Linked DNA regions of Homo sapiens. The protein of the gene in region 1 purifies or fractionates together with the protein of each later gene. This does not show direct contact. Each region holds a gene or a part of one and is shown in the gene's direction. Other genes may lie near its edges.

The links. Proteins that work in one complex are often made in the same cells at the same time.
Region 2: the proteins of ANKRD27 (region 1) and TBC1D4 purify together in Homo sapiens (affinity purification with mass spectrometry; one large-scale study listed by BioGRID and IntAct). This does not show direct contact.

Annotation. Positions count from the first base shown.
Region 1 is NC_000019.10:32,602,181-32,605,680, reverse strand, and holds part of ANKRD27 (ankyrin repeat domain-containing protein 27), read left to right. Parts: intron 1-1,256; coding exon 1,257-1,418; intron 1,419-3,500. UniProt on the Homo sapiens protein: May be a guanine exchange factor (GEF) for Rab21, Rab32 and Rab38 and regulate endosome dynamics.
Region 2 is NC_000013.11:75,475,670-75,479,169, reverse strand, and holds part of TBC1D4 (TBC1 domain family member 4), read left to right. Parts: intron 1-3,500.

The DNA of each region.
Region 1 (3,500 bases):
ACGGGGTTCTCCGATGGGAACAGATGGTGCCCCAGCATCTGGGATGCGGTCTCAAGGGCTCCGACGCTGCTTTTGCCAAGGGTTTGGGTCTCACCTCACCGACCGGGAATGTGTCACGCTGTTACCTGAGCATGGGCTGAGTGGCCGCCTCTGTCCCTGCTGCTCTTGAAAAAGGTTATGTGAATGCATTAGAATTTCTTAAAGAAGTAGGGAAAAACCAACCTGTCCATGACTGTGCTACTCAAGGGAAACTCATTATGGTGGACTTTTGACAAATGTGTATAGTTTCAGTGTTATTTATTAATTTTTTTTTGAGACAAGGTCTTGCTCTGTGGCCCAGGCTGGAATGCAATGGCACCCTCACAGCTCACTGCAGCCTCAGTCTCCCAGGCTCAGGTGCCTCAGCCTCCCAGCTAACTGGGACTACAGATACATACCACTGCACCTGGCTAGTTTTTGCTGTTTGTTTTTAGTAGAGATGGGGGTCTCACTATGTTGCCCAGGCTGGTCTCAAACTCCTGAGCTCCAACGATCCTCTTGCACTGGCCTCCTAAAGTGCTGGATTACGGGTGTAAGCCACGGGGCCTCGCCAAGTATTGTTTTCTCTTTTTCCGAGATGGAGTCTCGCTCTGTCACCTAGGAATGCAGTGGCTTACTCTCAGCTCACTGCAACCTCTGCCTCCGGGGTTCAAGCGATTCTCCTGCCTCAGCCTCCCGAATAGCTGGAACTACAGGCGCCCACCACCATGCCCAGCTAATTTTTTTGTTTTTTGGTGTTTTTTTTTAGTAGAGATGGGATTTCACTATGTTGGCCAGGCTGGTCTTGAACTCCTGACCTCAGGTGATCCACCTGCCTCTGCCTCCCAAAGTGCTGGGATTATAGGCATGGGCCACTGTGCCTGGCCCCAAGTATTGTTTTCTGTCTTAATGTTATTTAATGTAGAAACTTATTTACTCAAACTTTGATTTTTAATGGTTGCATAACTATGGATATACCATAGTGATTTTTTTGAACCTGTTTCTGCTCTGTACATTTAAGTGGCTTCTGTTTTCTCTGCTATTAGGATAAATGCTGCAGCGAACTCTTTGTCTATAAATCTTTTTTTCTCAGTATTACTTTTCCTCCCCAAATTTTAAGGAAACTTTCAGACATAAAAAAAACAATGTGTTTTATAGCGAATACCTGTATACCCACAGCCAGATTCCATGCTGACGTTTCGTAGCGTTCCTTTTGATCGTGTGGTTTCTCTTTCCAGCACGGGGCCTCCATTAACGCTTCTAACAATAAGGGCAACACAGCGCTGCACGAGGCTGTGATTGAAAAGCACGTCTTCGTGGTAGAGCTGCTTCTGCTCCACGGAGCGTCAGTTCAGGTGCTGAACAAGCGGCAGCGCACGGCTGTAGACTGTGCTGAACAGGTAGGTGGAGAGGGTCGAAGAGCCGAGGGAATCCTGAGCTCCTCACAGCTCCCTCTGGATCCCTTTGTTTAAGCTGGATCTAAAATAGCAACACCTGGCCCTTGGCATCGCCGGGCTGGGCGTAGTTGGTGTGCCAGAAGTCCACAGCGTGGGTAGATGGCTGGTCCTCAGTCTCCTGGTCAGAGGTGGTGCTCTGGGAACCAGGAATCATTCTTTTCACAGGTGGTTTTCAAAGGCCTGAGTGGAGGGGCCCCCCCCTCAGCTAGCAGTAGGGCTGTGGTCCGGTAGTTACATAGAGTCAGGCACTCAGGAAGGAGCAAGTCATGATGTTCTGGTGTCACCATCCTCACAGTGTGAACACAGCCGTTGTCTTAGCAGCACGATGGAGAAGGTTTGTTTTGTTGGTGGATTTAAAACTCCTTGAGGCCAGGCACAGTGGCTCATGCCTGTAATCCCAGCACTTTGGGAGGCCAAGGAAGGAGGATCACTTGAGCGCAGGAGCTCATGACCAGCCTGGGCAACATAGTGAGACCCCCTCTCTACAAAAAATCAAAAAATCAGCCGAGCATAGGGGTGCATGCCTGTAGTCCCAGCTACTCAGGAGGCTGAGGTGGGAGGATCGCTTGAGCCCAGGAGGTCAAGGCTGTAGTGAGCTGAGATTGTGCCACTGCACTCCAGCCTGGGTGACAGAGACTTTATCTCAAAAAAATGAAAGTAAAAGTCCTTGAGTCCTGTAGGAATCGTGATTATTGGCCTACTGCCTTCTCCAGTGCTGTGGATGCTTGCGTGGAGAGCGGCGGGGAAGGGTCCTTTTCCCCTGGCGAGCGGCAGCTCTTTCTGTTCCTGTTTTCCTGCTGAGTCTTTCTTTTGTTTTCTACCCAAGATAGACAGCGAGTAGGCTGTTAAGTGACACAACTGAGAAGCTAACATCACCATCAATCCACTCCATGGACAGGCTCCTTAGAGTAATTTTTTGTTTCTTAAGACAGAGTCTTGCTCTGTTGTGGCGTGATCTTGGCTCACTGCAACCTCTGCCTCCTGGGTTCAAGCGATTCTCGTGCCTCAGCCTCCTGAGTAGCTGGGATTACAGGCACGTGGCACCACACCTGGCTAAATTTTTGTATTTTTTGTAGAGACGGGTTTCACCATATTGCTCAGGCTGGTCTTGAACACCTGACCTAACTGATCCGCCTCCCTTGGCATCCCGAAGTGCTGGGATTACAGACGTGAGCCACTGTGCCTGGCCTCCTTATATTAATTTTCAGTGACAGAATTGAAATATTTTAAACTCTCAGTTTAGTACTTTCTTAAATGATTATGTTGAATTTTTTTTGGTTTTTAAAATTTTTAATTTTATTATTATTATTATTTTTTGAGACAGAGTCTCAATTTGTTGCCCAGGCTGGAGTATAATGGTGCAATCTTGGCTCACTGCAGCCTTAACCTTTGGGCGCAGATGATCCTCCAACCTCAGCCTCCCAAGTAGCTGGGACTATAGGCGTGTGCCACCATGACCAGCTAATTTTTTTTTAATAGAGACAGGGTTTTGCCATGTTGGCCAGGCTGGTCTCGACTGCCTGGGCTCAAGCAATCCACCCGCCTCGGCCTCTCAAAAGTGCTGAGATTACAGGCGTGAGCCATCGCGCCTGGCCTTTTATTATTTTTAAATAGAGACAGGGCCTTGCTATGTTGCCCAGGCTAGTCTTGAACACCTGGGCTCAAGCAATCCTCCCACCTCAGTCTCCCAAAGTGGTGGGATTGCACGCGTGAGCCACCGTGCCCAGTTAATTAATGTGTTTCAATGAGTACTTACTATATGGGGGCCCTCAACAGCCTCATGATAAGCATATGATAGTAGATCTTATTATGGTTGAGCTGGTTGCATGGAGTGGTTGAATCCCCAGCGTGGAGTCCACAGAGAGGGCAGAGCTTTTACCCAGTGGTAAAAGCAGAGCCGGGCTCCCCATGCAGGCCTGCTTTTACCACTGGGCTTTATGGCCTCCAAGCTCCATTTGTAATTATTTCTGAGCTTTTTCTGCCCAGTCACACTAATACTGACATTTAGATCAAAAACAAATAATA
Region 2 (3,500 bases), on another chromosome or scaffold:
AAACTCAAATAACAAAGAAGAGGGTTGAGTGAGGACCATGGAGGACTGGATAGTGGGTGGCCTTTCTCAAGGTGCTACTTAGCTCCACTTGGAAATTGCATGAATAGGATGCAAGTCTAGCGTTGCTAGAGCTGCTGATTTCCCAAGAGAGAGTGGAAATCTGAATTTTTATATATGACCCCGCATTTTAAAGTACTGGCAAATATTGTAAACATTTAAGAATCCTATCTGGGCCAAACAATACACATCTGAGAGATGGCTTTAGAGATCCATGAGCGGCCACTTTTGATCTTTGGCATAAATATTTGTTGAGTGGACAAGCGCAGTCATTGACACTATGTGCTGTTTGCTGTATTTCCTTTAGAGCATCCAGGTTCATTTGATATGGCTGTCATAGTAGGGGAAGCTGGGACCATCCTTTTTGAAGAATTTAGCAGAAAAATTCCCAGAAGTGTTGATTCTGCAGCTAGACATGTTAAAGGGGTCAGTTCAACATATTATCATCCAGCAGTATGCTTCATGCAGAGTTGGCTGTGGATAGTTCTAGGGACCCTTGAAATCAGAAGGAAGACCTGCTGTTTGCTTTGTTCTGAGTTCTATATTTGAAGTGGAGAATTATTTATTTGGACTTAAGATCATTGTTAAGAGAGTCTCCTAAGTGTTTCCCTCAGTCCTCGACAGAGTCTATAAAGTCTACAAACGTAGCCTAGAGCAGTAGACCTGCAAACATCCCCTAACATACTTGTCTGTGGTTTGTCTGTCATGCCTATTCCTTTAATGCAATGGCCCTATCTGTTGGATGACCGTATACTTTATTGTTTGATATGGGACAATTTTATTGTCAAAAGGGGCACCACTAATAATTATACAAGCACTGTGAGTAATAAACCTGGACTGTTGAGGACAAACCGAGATATATGGTCACCATGGCAAAGTTTGTGTTCATGCAGAGCCACCGAGTTGGAGGATTGTGGTTACTAATATAAAATGATAATGTTTTCAAGAGTATCTACTCACATATTGGAGTTGGATCTACATTTGACCTTAGAGCTGGGAGTGCTGTACTAATCGCTTGGGGGTCTGTTGTGGGGAGTTGCCACAGTGATGTGTTCCCTCTTGGCTCCACACCTCCCTTTGGGTCAGAGTCAATTTAAGGATGTGTGTCAGGAGAAGCATTCAACCAGAATGGCTCAATGCACCACTGTTTCTCCAAGGTGCAAAGAGAAATGGAGATGGGGGTGAAATGTATGCCAATGCAGATCTGTCTCTAGTCAAGCCTATGTAGTCTTATACAGGAGGAATGTCAGGCTTAGCACATTTCAGCTAAACTTGAATATTTGAACTGGGAAAAGGGCTTAATCCCATTGGCATGAAGTGAATTACAGACTTAAACTGATTGGGGAAACAAGAATATCTGATTCTCTCCCAAAGGTCTAGGATAGGTCACTAATACTCTGTAAATATTTATCCACTTGCAAAAAGAGTCTGTATGGCATTACCCAAATTTTTCTGTTAAAAAGTTATTTTATGTTATACATACATTACTACAATAAAAAATAAAGCAGGAGTTGTTATTGAAAATATGAGACTTTGTTATGTTAATTTTTAATTAACATTTGCCTGTGAGTTTTGAAGCATCATTATGTTTTATAATTATAGGATGAACAATCATTTAAAAGGTAAAAACATGATTGTTATAATGTTTATTGGTTGTTTTTGTGTATTATTTACTGAAGCTTGCAAGAATGATTTTAAAGAGACTTTACAAATTGTGTTCTTAAGATTAAAAAAAGGAATTTAATGCCAGTGTTTTCCCAACTCTCAGTTCTCTTAAAAACGTGTATTACTATCTGAGCTTTATTCACGTAACCAGTTTTTTTGTCAATATATTTTTAGAAGGTCATTTTTCAGTTCTTTTTCAAAGTTGATGGTTAGTAGCTTTGAGAATATACTAGTAAGAATACCAGAGAAATTGAAACCTGGAAGATTTCACCTCTCTGTGCTTTCTAAGAAGTTTGTTCTGTGGACAGATAGATCTATCTCTTTTTTTGTAATCATTTTTTATTCTCTCTCCTCCTTGCAGTCTGAAGTGGAGGTTAATTTGCCTTGGCTCTGTGGTAGAATCTTGACTGCAATATCTGGCGGAAAGGCACAAACATAGCCCAGAGACTCCCAGCCACAATGGAGCACATTATGATAGGAGCCCTAAGCTGAAAATTGAAGGTGTTCAGTGTCAGGGCTTGATTATCAGAAACCAGAGATTCTCAAACTTCAGTGTGTGTGTCAGAATTACCTAGAGGGCTTCTTAAAAGAGACCACTGGACCCTACCCTCAATTTCTGATTTAACAAGTTCTCTGGTGATGCTCAAACTACTGGCCGGGTGACCACAGTTTTAGAAACCCTGTGCTAAGTTATTTGGTTCATTTGGTTGGCTGTATGACCATTTCTGTTCCCCTGGATATTTTTGTAGTCTTTCTCAGACTTGAAAGTTCAAGTGGAATGTGAGGAGAAATAATATTTGACTCTGGAATATTTTTAAGAAGCTCTTCATCTTCTAGCTTAATGATTTGCCTGTCCTTTCCCTGATATAGACATTATTCTGCCAGACATCATAAGACCATGCAAATGTTGAATGAAAACTTTGCCTTTCAGCCAAAAGTTTTAAGTTCTGCAGGTGGAATAAACAGTTCATTTTGAGGGGAATACAGATAACCTAAAAATCTGAAGTCCAAAGTGTTTTAACGTCAGAAACGTTTTGAGCATCAACATGACACTACAGGTGGAAAATTCTTCACCTGATTTCATGAGATCACAGTCAAAACACACAAAATTATTAAACATATTGTATAAAATTACCTTGAGGCTATGTGTATAAGGTGTATAGAAACACAAATGAAGTTTTTTTGTTGTTGTTGTTTATTTTTTTGAGGTGGAGTCTCGCACTGTCGCCCAGGCTGGAGTGCAGTGGCGCGATCTCGGCTCACTGCAACCTCCACCTCTCAGGTTCAAGTGATTCTCCTGCCTCAGCCACCCAAGTAGCTGGGATTATAGGAGTGCACCACCACGCCCAGCTAATTTTTGTATTTTTAGTAGAGACGGGGTTTCACCATATTGGCCAGGCTGGTCTCAAACTCCTGACCTCAAGTGATCTGCCCGCCTGGGCCTCCCAAAGTGCTGGGATTACAGGTATGAGCCTCTGCACCCAGCCAGAAACATAAATGAATTTTATACTTAGACTTGGGTCTCATCCTTAAGATATCTCATTATGTATATGCAAATATTCCAAAATCTGAAAAAAAAATTCAAAATCTGAAACACTTCTGTTCCCAAGTATGTTGGATAAGTGATACGCAACCCATATATCCTAATTTCAGATTATGATAGTTTTTGAAAAAATTAAAGCTTGATTTACAGCCTGAGAAATAACACCATTCAGTAAGGCAGAGACTGTTCACATGCCCTTTTCTCATTTTGGAATGAGTAATTGCTTGGTGAGGAA